2 linked regions of the Homo sapiens genome follow. The protein of the gene in region 2 interacts with the protein of the main gene of each other region in a biochemical or structural test. Each region holds a gene or a part of one and is shown on either strand. Other genes may lie near its edges.

The links. Proteins that work in one complex are often made in the same cells at the same time.
Region 1: the proteins of IPO8 (region 2) and AGO3 form a complex in vitro, tested with the Homo sapiens proteins (one study listed by BioGRID).

What each region holds. Positions count from the first base shown.
Region 1 is NC_000001.11:35,926,746-35,934,518, forward strand, and holds the start of AGO3 (protein argonaute-3), read left to right. Parts: upstream 1-4,359; 5' UTR 4,360-4,681; coding exon 4,682-4,700; exon of another isoform or gene 4,701-6,114; intron 6,115-7,773.
Region 2 is NC_000012.12:30,685,449-30,693,058, reverse strand, and holds part of IPO8 (importin-8), read left to right. Parts: intron 1-2,481; coding exon 2,482-2,563; intron 2,564-7,168; exon of another isoform or gene 7,169-7,259; intron 7,260-7,610. UniProt on the Homo sapiens protein: Involved in nuclear protein import, either by acting as autonomous nuclear transport receptor or as an adapter-like protein in association with the importin-beta subunit KPNB1.

The DNA.
Region 1 (7,773 bases), on a different chromosome or scaffold from region 2:
AGGAAGAGCTGGAAAAGTGGATTTGCTGGGGAATTAGATGCATTTAGTTTTCCACTTACGCACAACTGCCTTCTCCAGTATATCATACCAAGGTTTTTTAGGCCTTTGTGGCTTACCCTGCAGGAACATACTGTGTCCTGTTGTTCTGGACTGTAGCATCTTCACCACCATCCTCTTGGCAATGGTTTTTTGTTTGGGGTTTTTTTTTTTTTTTTTTTGGACAAAGTATAATAATATTGAGGGACCTTTCTAGGGAGCCTTTGGTCCTTTGTCCCCATTTTCCAAAGGGAGGGAACTTTCCTCTTAAAAGAGACAGTGGGAACTTTTAGCCAGGTTTTTGGAAAAGGCCTGTGGGCTATTAATGAGAGTGAGCTGCAAAAGGAGGAAGGGTTTGTTTGGGTACTTTGAAGTACTTAGCTAGGTGTTTTCTACAGTATCTTATATAATTGCATCTTACAGCATCTTTACATGCGAAATAGTTTATCAGTTATCTTCAATTGCATATTACAAAATTCTGATTAAATTTTTCTTAAATAAGAAAACTATCATTTCATATGACAAGAAATCCTAATTTAATGTTACTCCAAGGTTGGTTAATTCAGTGGCTCAGTGATAACACCAAAGACTCAGTTTCTTGAAATTTTTTTGCTCTGCCATCCTCCATGTTTATCCTCACGCCAGTTCGCCTCATGGTCCCAATATGGCTACTGTAATTCTGGGAAGGAAATGCTGACAGAACCGTGTCTGGCAAAAGAGAGACAGATTTTTCTGTGTCCTTCTAAAGCAAGGAAGTCTTCCCCTGGAAGCTCCAACAGATACGGCCTCATGGCTTTGCTAGAAATGGGTCATCTCACTCCTGTCATTGGCAAAGCAAGTAAGATCATCCATCAGGAGTGGCTTAGATTAATGAATTATCCTTTGAGTCGTGTAGACTAGAAAGTTCAGTCATGTCTACTAGCAAGAAAGGAGATAAGGGCTGTTGGATAAGCAGCATCTGGTCTCAAAGGTACTTCAACTTTTACAGATGAGAAACATGAATCAGAGTGACTTTCCCAGGCTCACAGCAAGTAAGAGAGGGCCTTCAGTGTTAGCTGTGTCTGTCCCTAAAGCCCATGTTTTATATTGTATCTTGCTAGAGTATAAAGTAACTTACTTTCTACCTTGTAGAAACTGATGGTCTAGGAGAAGAGATTTGAACTCAGGTGCCCAGTTGACTCTAATCTTGGCCCATGTGAGAGGATTGTACTCAGTTGCTCTCCTCATCCAGTGATGTTTCTTGTCTAACACAAGAAGCCTAGGAGTAGAAAGTCCTAAGCAGAGTAGAATAATAGCGGCAGCAGGGAGGGAAGTGTGAACTGTGTGTCCCTGAGCCTGACTTACTGGGCAGGGACATGACACTTAAAGCGGCAGCTGGCCACTCTGTCTTTCCTGCATGCACTGAGTATTTGGTAGCTCATTAGTGACCAGTGATATTGATCATCTTTTCATGTGCTCACTTACTATCCCCATATCTTTGTTGTTTGCATCTTTTACCCATTGTATTTGTTGTTTTTGAGACAGTGTCTCACTCTGTCACCCAGGCTGGAGTGCAGTCTCATGATCGCGGCTCACTGCAGTTTCTGCCTCCTGGGCTCAAGCAATCCTCCCACCTCAGCCTCCTGAGTAGCTGGGCTTACAGGCGCACACCACCATGCCCAGCTAATTAAAAAAAAAATTTTTTTTGTAGCAGTTCGGTCTCATTAGTATTGCCCAGGCTGGCCTCTCTTAGCTTCAAGCTATCCTCCCGCCTCGGCCTCCCAAAGTGCTGGAATTACAGGCATAAGCCACAAGCCACTGGGCCCAGCCTCTTTTACCTGTTTCAAAATTGAGTTTTATTGAGTTGTAAGAGTTCTTTATTCATTTTAAACACAAGTCCTTTGTTGGATATATCTTTTACATCTATTTTTCCCAGTCTGTGGCTTGCCTTTTCATTTTGAAGAGCAAAAGTTTAAAATTTTGTGAATTTATTAAAGCTCCGTTTGTTGCTTTTTTCTGTTCTAGTTTATACTTTTGTATCATATTTTAGGAAATTTTGCACTGGGTATTTGATGGCTCCTGAGGAGGTTCAACTTTCAGAGCGCACTGATTTCTCTGCACCTGAGATTTTGTACTATTTCTGTATTTCTTTCTTCTCAGAACAACCAGTGTCACCAGGTATGAGGGCAGAGTTTTAGCTTGTTTGCTGAGCCCCATTCTTGAAGCTCATTTATTTATTCACCTATCTGTCCATCAATCCAACAAATATACTGAATGCTGCTATGTGCCAGGTACTGGCACTGTTCTAGGTACTGGGGCAATGACAGTTAAGATAATACCCAATGACCCTGCTCTGTACCCTTAAGAGCAGACTCAGTTGGGAATGAGTTATCCAAATATAGGGTGTACATGTAGTCAGGAGAGAGCCTCATACAGCTTTGCCTTTGGCAGAATCCTTCAAACCTCTTTGTCTTCCTACTTCTTGATATTACAAATCATGAGCCTTTCACATGCATTGACTCTAAAGAGGTGGGTTCCTGGATAGCAGAAGTAGATAGGAAGGCATCATTGACATTTACTGAGATGGATTGAATCAGAGGGTGTAAATTCTGCTCCATCAATGTTGAAAAAGACTAGCCCACCCCAAAGGTTTATCACTGTCACCATGTCTAATGTCTATTCTGGAAGAAGCTGAAGAAGTCTGCCTTTGTTTAGGGAACCGGTTCCAGAATCAGAGGGGTTGAGGATATAAAAGACCCTTGCACAAGAGTTGGTATTTACCCTGTCAGATGCTGCTACCAAGATTTGGATTGTGTACAGTCGAGGATTAAAAATGACTTTTAAGATGCAGTGTTTCATCTGGTGACATTTAATTTGATATTTTAAAATTGGGGAGGGTATTTTCAGCCATGGGGGTAGGGATGTGAAAGAAGAAGAAAGTAAGAATTGGAGTCAGATGTGGTTTTGAGTCCCATACATTTATTGTTTAATATTATATGGTAAGTACTTTAAAATGGTAAATAGTAAATACTTGTGTTATTCACTAACATTTGGGGAGGATTTTCTCTGTGCTTTATGTATATTACCTAACCTTACAAACTGTGTAAGGTACATGCTGTTCTCTCAATTTTTCAGATAAGAAAATTGAAGCCCAGAGAGATCAAGTGACTGATCCAAAGTCCCACAGTGAGGGGAACTGAAGATAGGATATTCTTTCTCCTTTTCCTCTTTAAAAAATTATTTTGATTAAAAAAAACCGTATTACTGAAGCATAGGGACATGGGGAGAAATTATGAATGATTCCTCAGCCTGAATAAAATAGTATGTTTCATTAAGGCAACAAATATTTATTAAGGACCTAATATTTGCCTGACATTCAAGTGAGGTGGGGGGCACACAAGTAGTAAATAAATAACAGACTGGGCAAAGGGCTACCAAGGCAATACTGTAGTAGACTAACAGGTGCCCCACCATAGATGGGTGGTCCGGAAAAGGCGTCTCAGATGTCTTTCGTTGAGACGCAAAAAAAAGCTGTGGGGTAGGGCGTAAGGGGAGGGTGGAGAAGAGAGAGAGGGTTCCTGGCCAAGGGAACCAAAAGCAGAGAAGCTCCAAGTCAGAAAAAAGCAGCGGTTGGCCCGTTGGGAGAATTGGAAGCCAACCAGTATAGCTGTAGCACAGGCGGGGCCCATTTACGCCGTGCGTTTTCACCCTGGAAAGGAGTTTGGGTTTTCAAGTGTGACGAGGCGCTATTAAAGAGTTTTAAACATGGAAATTACTCGATCTGATGTTTGTGTAGTGTCCTGTTTGTTAGTCATCTTTTCCAAACTATAATACATTTTTTTTTTCCTAAAAATGGTCGTTAAAGCAGCCTAGGACTTAGGTCAATTGCGGTGGTCACTTGACCGCCTGTGAGGAGGCGGCGCGTGGGGTGGATCGGACTGGGCGTGGCGGGGGCTCAGGAAGGAGGGTGGCCCTACCCCAGCGGGCTCGGCTCGGGGCCTCCGCGGCAGTTCGGGGTCCTTCACCCGCCGGCTCCAGGTAGGCTACTCCTCAGGTAAGCCCCGCCGCCAGCCGCGACGTCGTCGCAGACAGGCACCGCCCCCACTCGTGCGGCGCGAGTAGTCCTGCCCCTCCGCGTTGTCTCCGGCCGGCACGGCCCGGCGGGGTACGGCCGAGCCCGCCGCATGTGGCCCGGCTCCCGGACACCTCCCCGGCGTCCTCCGCGCCGGCCGCTCCTGCCCCGACGTCGCTCCGGCACGGCTCGGGGCCCAGAGGCGAGGCGAGGACGCCGGGCAAGCCAGGCAGCGGAACTGACGCCGGCGAGCTTCCGGGGCGGCCCCGGGCAGGTCGGCGGCGGCGGCCCGCAGTCGTGGAGGAGCGGTGGGAGCGTCGGCGGCCGCGGGCGATGCAACTTCCGGACGGGACTCCCCTCTGTCCGCGCCTCACATCTCCCCTTCCTCTCGCCTAGTCCTGTGCCGTTTTCCGTCCGCGACTCTTCCGGCCCAGAGCTTTCGGAGTGCGGTTGCTCAGGGGAAGCCGTCGCCGCCCCCGCCTCGGGGCCGAGTGAGAGTGCCCGTCGCGTCGCGCCGCGTCGCCCCCCGGGCCGCCTCCTTGCCGCCAGTGGCGGGCTCCGTTCTCCCTCGAAGCACTCCCCCCAGCTCCATGAATGGAAATCGGCTCCGCAGGTGAGTCAGAGTAGCTGGGCCAGGTAGGGGATGTCACCCAGCTACTGTCCTCTGAGCATCCCTGCTCCTCCCGCCCGGCCCAGGTGCGCGAGGTGAGCGTCGGGCGGGCATCGCTCGGTCTCCCGCCCCTCGCCCTGCTCCTCCGCGACCTCCCCGCAGCCCAGCCCCAGTTCCCCGGGGGCCCCTGAGTCGGCGAAACTGCGAGGCGGGGAAACGCTTGGAGGATTTAAGTTTGGGGTTATCTAGGCGGCATTACTCTTTGCTGGAGTACCCTTCTTCTAGACTTTAGAATGGTTTGCCATTGTCTAGTTGGAGTGCGTGTCCTTTAGCCAGGTTGTGTGTTCCGTAGAGGCTGGGCAGCCAGCCAGCTCCCTTACCTACCTCTTAGGATAGTTGTGAAGATAGGCTGAGATAACGGATAACTTCAGATTAAGTTCGAAGGAGGTGTTGGTGCAACGTTAAATTCAACATGGCATTGCTCCTACCCTCGAGTTCTTTTCTGTTGTTTGTGGCAGCATGGTAGATAGTTTCTGAGGAGCTTGGAAATGTCATAGCAGCCTGGATCCCTGCTTATACGAGGAGGTGGTTCTTAAAATTGCTGACAGTATATTTTTTTTCATTCTCTATTCCTTAGAGAAGTAGTTGTCATATTCCTGGAAATTTGGAATTTAAGAAAACTGCTTTATCTCTGGGGGCAAGAGCAGCAGTTTTGCAGTCTTAAGAGAAAATTGCAACATGGATAGTACTTGTCCTTAAAAAAGGAAAAGTATTGTTTATGGTTCTAAAGTAATTAATTCAGGGACAGAAAGGTGTTGCATAACGGTTTGCCTAACAAATGATCATGCTTGGCTTATTAAATTTGAAAGTATGCTTCAGACGATCACAAGTTCGTAAATTAATTTTCAAAATATTTGCGGGGCTGTCTTGTTACTAATGGTGTTACAAGTTCCTGAATTCCATATCTCTTTTTGCCAATTTGATATAAGAAAAACTTACGTAAAAGAAACCAGTGACATAACGATAGCTAAGAACTTTGTTGAATAGATTACGTGTCAAATGGTTGCAAAAAAGCACTCAAACTGGGGAGATGAGATGGGGAGAGAGTTACAAATTTTTTTTTTTTTTTTTTACAAATTTTGTTACATGGAAGTTTCTCTAATCAATTTAGACCATATCTCTTTTTCCTGCTCCATTGTTTCGCTTTCCCCCATATCGTCTTAAAAGGTCTGTCTGGATTGTGAAAAGATTTCGACTCTTATTCAGTTTTGATTTGTGTATTTCTGAAACTGTCCTGCCCTTTTAAAAAAATTACCATACTACTGTTTTACTGTACAGGAGATGTGATTATTTGGGACCATAGGTGATCTTTGTACATAACTGTCCTGTTGTCAAGTCTGGAAAACAAGTCATGAAGGTCAGACCCTTTATTAATCATCCCAAAACTTTTAAAGATATTTCAAAAAAGTTTTTAAAGTTTTTTCTTTTTCTCCTTAGGGTTTTTCATATGATATTGTGCCCATATATATGGGAAATGTCTTAGAAAACATTTGTTACATCAAACCACCTAGTCAACTGGTACAACTAAGCCAAGTACAGCTCAGAAAATACATTTTACCTCTTCTTTTTTGGGTGTCCCATTGCTGAAATGGATACCCATTTAGCTGTCTTCACATTTGGGGAAGTGTGTAGTTAGATTATCAACTATATGCCTGGGTCTCTTGAAAAGTAAAGTTTTTTCTTCAGTACAGTTTATACATGATTGAATGTAGCCTAATAATGAAGATAAGCTATACTTTGGCTCAAGATTGTCATCAGAAACAAAATTTTCATTATTCCTGAGACTTGTATATAATTGGTATGCTTAGCTTTAAGTTGAAAGCATAGCTGTGCAACTAAATTTTAAATCCATAATTTAGGCTGGGTGTGGTGGTTCATGCCTGTAATCTCAGCACTTTGGGAGGCTGAGGAAGGATGATCGCTTGAGCCCAGCAGTTGGAGACCAGCCTAGGTAACATAGTGAGACCTGCCTCTACAAAAAACAGAAAACTTAGCCGAGAATTGTGGCACATGTCTCCAGTCCTAGCTACTTGGGAGGCTGAGGCAGGAGAATGGATTGAGCCCAGAAGGCAGAGATTGCAGTGAGCTATGATCGCGCCACTAACTCCAGCCTGGGTGACGGAGCAAGACCCTGTCTCAAAAAAAAAAAAAAAAAAAAAAAAAAAAAAAATCATCATTTGACACGTATTTTGATTTTAAAATTTTAGTATAAATGTTCTCAAAAAGTCTATTGACTCAGTATTGAATCTTGGCTTTCCAATTCTGCCATAAGTTTTTCTTTTTTGTGGAGATTCTCAGGAATCATCTTGTGATAGGATATTTTAAATTCTAGTTGCTCGGTGGATACACAGAAAACTGTTAAATTTGTTTACATTAGGGAACCTCGAACACAAATACCATATAAGTTAGTATTTGTTCTTTCATATGAAATATTTTAAATGCTTTTTAAGGATATCTTGTGCAATCTACTGATTTAGTACCATCAGAACTTTGATTTAACAAAAAAAAAGGTGAAATTAGTTAAAAATTAATCAACAGTTTAACATCTGTGTCTGTGACTCTTTAGTTGGGGAACATCTGATGAAACACCGTTTTTTATGGTCTAATTACTGCTGAACTAAGAGTATAGGTTATGTTTCAGTTCTAAATAAAGTGGGAATAGGGAGCTGCAGAAATGCTTGATGATGTTACTTCTCCTGAGTACTCATTTTTTAGGTCCATACTATTCTAGTCTATGTTTTCAGGTAATGTTAGACTACCGTTTAGGACAGAGGAACTACACTTTATAATGGAAGAAAAACATTTACTTTTACCTTAAATTAATGACATGCAAATTGTTTGATGTTTGGTGGAAGTTTTATACAGTCTTGCAAAAGTGAATAGACTGTTTCTTTCTTATTTACACTTTTAAATTCATGTCTGAAAATAGTTGTTTTAGAGTTCTGTGTTTATTTAATAATAAAAGTTTTAGAAAAGTTATTTGGAACCAAGTTCCAAAGGAATAAAAGTTGCATAT
Region 2 (7,610 bases):
TGTGTACATGCAATTTTCATTACCCTTTATTAAGATAATTTGTTTATGTAAATAGCACAGAAATATTTATTAAGTTACTATGTTGCAGATATTGGTATAAGAGTTTGTTTCCATGGAGCTGGGGATACAGGCAAGTAACTAATATAATTTCAGGTCATAAGTGCTGTGGAGAGTAAAGCCCGAGCAAGAGTGTTGGGATGTATAGCCATTCTCTGAAGAATGGCATTGAGTAGAGAGTTGGATGTTGTGAAGGAATGGGCCAGGCAAAGAGCAGAGAGAGGAACAACAGTTCAGAAAAGGCCCTCAACTTGGCGTGCTGGAGGACTGAGAGGGAATATCGGTTCAGAAAAGGCCCTCAACTTGGCATGCTGGAGGACTAGAAAGGTTAATGCAGCGGAGCAGTGAGTCAGAGGATGGGAGGAGACATCAGTTTTTTGCTTTATGAGTTCTCATAAATGCAGAATTTAGTTAAGCAAACTGCGTATTTGCAGAAAACTTCACAGATACAAAATATCCTCAGGAAATCATTGAGAAATTAGTCTTATTTATTTTTTAGAAACTCGAAGCCTGAAGAGGCACAAAGAAATTGAGTAACTATTTCTGAGTAAAGTAGTATGAAAATATATCTGACTATATCTCTGAATGTTTTAGCTGGCCAAGTTAATATAGAATGAATCAATGCTGAAAGAAGACAAGGTTTCTGAAATTTTTTAAAATGGCAAACAGTTGCAAAAAGAGGAGTTTCAAAATCTGTACAATGGCAACAGTGTTGACATAAAAGTCTCTGCAATAGGTATATTACTTTCAAATAAGTAGCATTTATTTAAGTGTAAAGGTTATTTTGTATGTGTGGAATAAGATTTTTAAACAAATAACGGAAGTCAGTTTTTTTATGATTAGAATAAACTATATAGATGTTTTAATCTTTGATTCATGACAAGATCTTTCAGTATTTACAAAGATAAACATGAGTTATAATACATATGTAGAAGGTGAAGGCTGGGTGAATCTGTGTTAATTTTGCCTCCTATCAACGGTTGTTAGAACAAATCTGTTTTCTTAAAAACTGCTTTGAAATTCTGATGGTTTCAATTATGGATAAAAAAGAATTTACATGCCACAGATTTGTGATCTGAAGACTACACAGGATGAAAGGAAGAAAATTATAATTCAAAATTTTGTGAAGGATATAGAAAGATTGGGAAAGCACAATGTTCTTGGATGAAAAAGATTAATATTTTTAAAATGCCAGTTGTGTCCAAATTAATTTTTTAATCAAACACTTACCTTCATAGATGTGATTTTAATTTAAAAAAATGAATAATATGCCCAAACCTAGCTGTGTATTGAAAGGGATGCCCCCACAGATCCAGGCTCTGAGGAGAGGGGTGAGCTGAACAGACTCTCTGGGTCATTGTCTGGTTTGGCCTCACTGGAATTTGAGTCTTTTCAAATGAATGTCAGTGGACAAAGGCATATGTGGACTCTGGAATGTGACAGGACTGTAATATAGTCCAGGTACTGTACATCTGGATATAACGTGATCAGAAGGAGTGGATGCTCTGTATTTTTTTGCTTTGAAGGTCCCCATCGCCAAACTCAGGAGCAGATCATAGTAGAGCACACCTGTGGGGTGAAGTGACCCAGGCCACAGGGCAGAGCAGGAGCTTCATCCCCACAGGCTCACTTAGGCATTAAGTGTAAAAGATAGTACAGCAGTAGAGGGCAGCTGGTGATGACAGTGTGCTCAACCCCATCTCGTGAGTCACACTGTTCCAATCTGGACTGGCTTCTCTCCATTGCTCACGCTCAACTTTGTAACATTATCTTCTCTGTTTTGCTCTGTTGGGTCTCCTATTTCCTGTAGCCTTTGTTTTTTTGTTTTCTGTTTGTCAAAAATACCATAAACAAAATTGAAGCACAAATAATCTAGGAAGAAATACTTGCCATGTATAGGTCAAATAAAAGATTGAGATTTTAAATTCATAAATAGCTCTTAGAATTTATTAAGAATAAAGCAAATACTCCATTTACAAAAGGATAAAGGGAGTAAGGAATTTGTAGAAAAAACAGCCAACAAAGAGGAAAACACCCAACCTCCTTAGTAATAGAGAAAATGCAATTTAAAACATTAATAAAATTTTAAAGTTTCAAAGGAATGATGATACCTGTATTAGATAGATGGACACTACCATATGCTGCTGTTGGGAGTGTAAATTGGTATACTACTTCTGGAGACCATTCTGACAATATGTTAAAAAAAATCATAAAAATGTTCACATTCTTTTATTCATCAGTTTCTGCTCAGGAAATTTTTTTGACTTGAAGTATTTTAGTAATCTTCATTTTGCCTTGAAGGGTTTGTCTCAGTTTAAAAGTTTTTCTTTTATTTGGACAGTAATGTATTCAGTAACCGGTGCTAACTTATAAGCTACTCACTTATATTGCCCTATTTTATAAAACATTTCTTTGTAATTTCAGTCCTACAAGATTATCAATTTTGCCCCCAGTTTACTTCGGATTATAGTCTCTGACCATGTGGAATTCCCAGTACGACAGGCAGGTGAGTTGGTTTTTTATCCTTTATAAATTTATTTATAGGTGAGAGTAGAATGAGAGTTTTATTTTAATTTTACATATCTGTAATTTATTGAAAAATTCAGAAGCACTAGCACTCATGAAGTATTTCCAGTGACTTCAAAACTCACTTTCTTTTTCCCCAGAAATTTAGAGGTAGATACTGAGCTCTCAAATATCTTCTAGCTCTTTTTTTTCCTCCTCTCCCTTTTACCCACCAATTCCTTGCCTCTGTAACTTTGCCCTTATTTTTCTCAATTTTAATAGCTGATCTCTCTAACGTTTTATGATTTCTGGTAGCCTAGCCTCTGGGCCCATAGATTAAGACCATGAATTTATATATGTGAATTCGAGCTCTGTTACGTGGCAAATCATGGAGGTAATGTGTTGCACAGATGTTCCTAACCCAGGTGACTGCGGAGCAGGACTATGTTTTAAACATGAAACTTACTTTTAAGTCTGTGGGATCTTACGTTGTTTCATGATGTTGTACATCGTTCTTTTATCTTGTTTTTTTATGGACTGGTCATTAGAGCCCAGAAGGTTAAAAATTAGAGCCTTAGAGTATCATGAATTTTCAAAAGATAATAATCAAAAGCTAAAGGAGGTAAACGACAATAGCTAATTAAAAATAAGTATTTAAAAAGACTTGTTATGTAAGTGACATATACATGTAAGTAATTTGGACAATTTAGAAGAATACAAAGAAGGAAGTAAAACTACCCAACATTCATCACTCAGAAATGGCCATCATTACTCATCATTAACGTTAGGTGAACATTAGCCTTTCCATGTGTTCACGTAGAAGGATAGATGAACAGTTTCAGAGAAATGGGTCATAATCTACATGCTGATGAAAGTATTTAATTTGATTTGAACATAGAATAAAAAGATAAAGAAATATTAAGCTTTGGGAAGATTTATAACACTATATATGATTTCCTGAAAGATCACTTTGTGGTTAAGATAAAAAAGAAAATCCTATGGAAAAACACTGATGTTGGAATTATTTTTTGCTTTTATAAGGTTTACAAGACTTCTGTGTAAATTTTTGAAACCACAATTGGCACTTGTTTCATCTTTGTTTTATAAAATAGGGCTGTTCTGGAATAACATTTTGTTGAATGGAACCTATTTTAAAAACCTAAGTGTTTATAGGGCCATTGTAAAGTTCCTATGAAGCATTTAAGAAATAACATTTTAAAAGATCTTAAAACAAGTTTTTACATTAATGTCTTCCTTTAATGACATGGAAACATTAGAAAAACACAGTTTATAACTTACATTGTTCTTAATACACCCAAAGATGACTGCCATCAGCTTTGATGCGTGGCTCTCCAATTCTTTTTTTTATATTACACATGCTATTTTACAGTTTCCTTTTTTTCATTTAACCATGTACCCTTGAAGATTGCTCCAAGTCAGTGCATATAGATACTTCATTCTTTATAACAGCTGTGCAGTATTTCTTTATATAAGAATTACCATGGTTTACTTAAACGATTTGATATTGATGGACATTTCGCTTATTGTCTTTTTTTCATTGTTGATAGAAGCAATGCTAAATGAGTGTCATTTGATATGTATCTAGGTACTTGTGGGAGTGTTTTTATAGAATAAGTTATAACAAGGGGAAATGCTTGGCTAATGGATATTTATGACATTTAGAATTTAGAATCTTCTCACTAAGTTGCTTTTGCTTACATTTTCTACCAACAGTGCATTAGAATGCTAGGTTCCCCAAATCCTCACCAACTCTGTACAACTTAATGAAGTTTTGATGTAAAATGTAAACAGCATTGAAAGGCATTTTTTTCTTCATAATTTGTTTTTTCATAATTTAGATTTCAAATCCTAAATTTAAGTGGTATTTATAAATTTTCTGTTCTGTTTAATCTATTATTAAAATACAAGGATGCTCCAAGACACCTAGAAAGATAATTTATCTTTAGCATGACACTTAAAAAAGAATGTTGTGATTTTTGCTTTAAAAGAAAGCCTGTATAAAGCTGTAAAAAAAAAGTTATGCTAATGTTAAGTGGAAATACATCTGCAAAATACTTTTTCTCTTTTGCTTGTGGGCAATCTAAAGTGTTCTTGCTACCATCAAGCGTGCTCACTGGTGAATGTCCTTTCTTACCTTACTGTGAGTTTTCAAGAAACAGGAAAAAATTAAGTATTTTGATGTTGCCAAGCAAAACAAAAAAATTTGAATGTTTGGTCTGCTGCTTTTCTTTTGAGGTGTTGATAAGCATAATAGCATTATTAATATTATCATGTGCGGTGAAGGAAGCCTATCTTAAATTTAGGATAGTTATGATCTGGAATTTCAAATCACTTTTGTTTCTAATTTTTTACTTCTTACATCTGAAGAGACTCTTTAGTAAAATTTCTCTAATATATGTAAATTTAGGCTCAGAAATGTACTTTTTTCAGTGCATTTTGGAGTTGCTACGAGAAGGAGAGAGTAGTTTGGATTTAAAAGTGGTGGTTGAGAGGTATTAGACCTGAAGAGGTCATCAGTGGTGACAGATGTGGGACTGTCATTTAAAAAAATAGCATGGTTTTTGATTTCTATAAGTTTGCCTGCTCCTTGTTGTTTCTTTTTGTTTGTATTTCCAAAGGATGGACAGGGAGAAGATATAACAATTCATTCTGTGGTTATTTGTTTAGAGGTTATTTGTTAAGATTGACGTCAGCATTGCAGAGTGCAGAACCTAGAAATAAACAGAAAGATGCCTCTGATCAGTCCAGAAGCACTTTAAGAAGCTTTTATTAACATTCATGCATTTTATTTGTAGAAAGCTTTGTGGCTTGTGCTCAGAATCTATTTAATATTGTTTTGATAGAATTGACACATTTGTTGTCTAATCTAGCCTTTCACAGAGTAATAAGGGAGAGAAGGGGTACAAAATTACAATGAAAAACAGCAAGACTTAGAAACATCAACTCAAAAGCATGACATTCTGCCCACCGAGATAACAGTACTTTCTCCACTTTGAGGTTATGAAACCCAATTGATTCTGTAGTTGTGTCTCTGGGTCCAGAGCTTAAGTGATGATTCATTGTGCTGAAGGAGAAAAGTGTGTGTGTGTTTTTAGAAAGTTAATTTCAACTTATGATGCTTAAAATGGTGAGTGGATTTTGTAGGAAAACTGTCTTAGAGCAGCCATTTTTATCATAGAATCTGAAATACATTTATAAAATTCTACATTATAACTATCCTAAATTTAAGTGCCATTTGTAGATTTTCTGCTCTATTTAATCTATTATTAAAATACAAGGATGCTCTAAGACACCCAGACAGATACAGTAAATTTAATATTTCCTTTATGAATTGGATTAACATGATATTAGTCCTTTGTTTCTTAGTTCTGGCAAATGGTTTGTATTTAGGCACTTGAATTAAATGATTAAAGGGAAGTTTTCAGATTATTGGTTGATATGGTAACAGTTATCTTTGGTATTTTTCCTTTATCCTTAGTAATCCATAATTATCCATCATAGTAATTAAAATTTTCTTTTTAATATATTTTCAATTTTATTTTACCTCATTGTACATTTATTTAGGCATATACAAATTAGTCAGTGTGCCTTTTTTAAAGGCTGTCTCGTTTGATGCACCATAATTTTTAAATTATAACTTTTCATTTATAAAATTAATATTAATAGTATTTAATGACTAAATCATAAATAAGTCCATGATTTTACCGTGTCTGTATTTTTACTGTCTAAAGGTTGCTTTTCTTTGTTTTCAAGACTAGTTCTATAGGGATCAAAATGATTTTGTGACTAATATAGTTGATTTTTCTTTTTGCAAAGATTGATCCTGTGAAATCAGGCTGGGTGTTCATGCCTGTAATCCCAGCACTTTGGGAGGCTGAGGTGGGTGGATCACTTGAGCCCAGGAGTTCAAGACCAGCCTGGGCAGTATGGCGAAACCCTGTCTCTACAAAAATACAAAAAAATTAACTGGCGTGGTGGTGCACGCCTGTATTCCCAACTACTTGAGAGACTGAGGTGGGAGGATCACCTAAGCCCTGGAGGTGGAGGCTGCAGTGAGCTGTGATTGTGCCCCTGGACTCCAGCCTGGGCGATAGAGTGAGACCCTGTCTCAAAAAAACCCCTAAATCCTGTGAAATCAGTCTGAACTGCTGACAGGTTGGTTCATATCCTTAGATCATTCATTCATTATTTTTTGAATAGTCTATACATTTTTATGGAATGTGTACTCTTTGCCAGTCACTGTTACATAATATAATGACTATACCCGATAAAACATGGTACCTAGTCTAGAGCTTGTGTGGTCTGAATTAAAAACAAGTAAGGGAAAAAAGAAAACTCTAACACACATCCCCCTTTATATAATTTTTGTTTTCACCCAAATGAATTGAAATCATAGATGGAACAGTTTTTCAGAACTTTAGCTACTCAAAACTAATGAAAGAGGAGCTTACCAGATGTCAAGTTCATAATTTCACTAAATTTCTTTTAAGTTTTAGCTAATGTAGAATGTATTGGTGTATTCTTTATGGTATAGTGCTTTGACTACCCAATTTAGTTTTTTTTTTTTTTTTTTTTGACAGAGTCTTGCTCTGTTGCCCTGGCTGCAGTGCTGTGGCATGATCTCAGCTCACTGCAACCTCCGCCTCCTGGGTTCAAGGAATTTGCTGGAATTACAGGTACCTGCCACCATGCTTGGCTAATTTTGGTATTTTTAGTAGAGACGGGGTTTCACCATGTTGGCCAGGGTGGTCTCGAACTCCTGACCTCAGGTGATCCGCCCGCCTCGGCCTCCCAAAGTGCTGGGATTACAGGTGTGAGTCACTGCTCCGGGTCATGAATTTAGTTATATGTTAAAAGTTGGGTGAAGAAAGAGTTGGGTGGGGAAAGAAGAGAAGCTTAAGGGAAGAAAGTTATGCTGCTTTGCAAATCACGTATCTGTATTCTTTACACACACACACACACACACACACACACAACATTATAAGTATTTACTTACATTCACTGTTCAACTGGGATGGTTAGAAAGC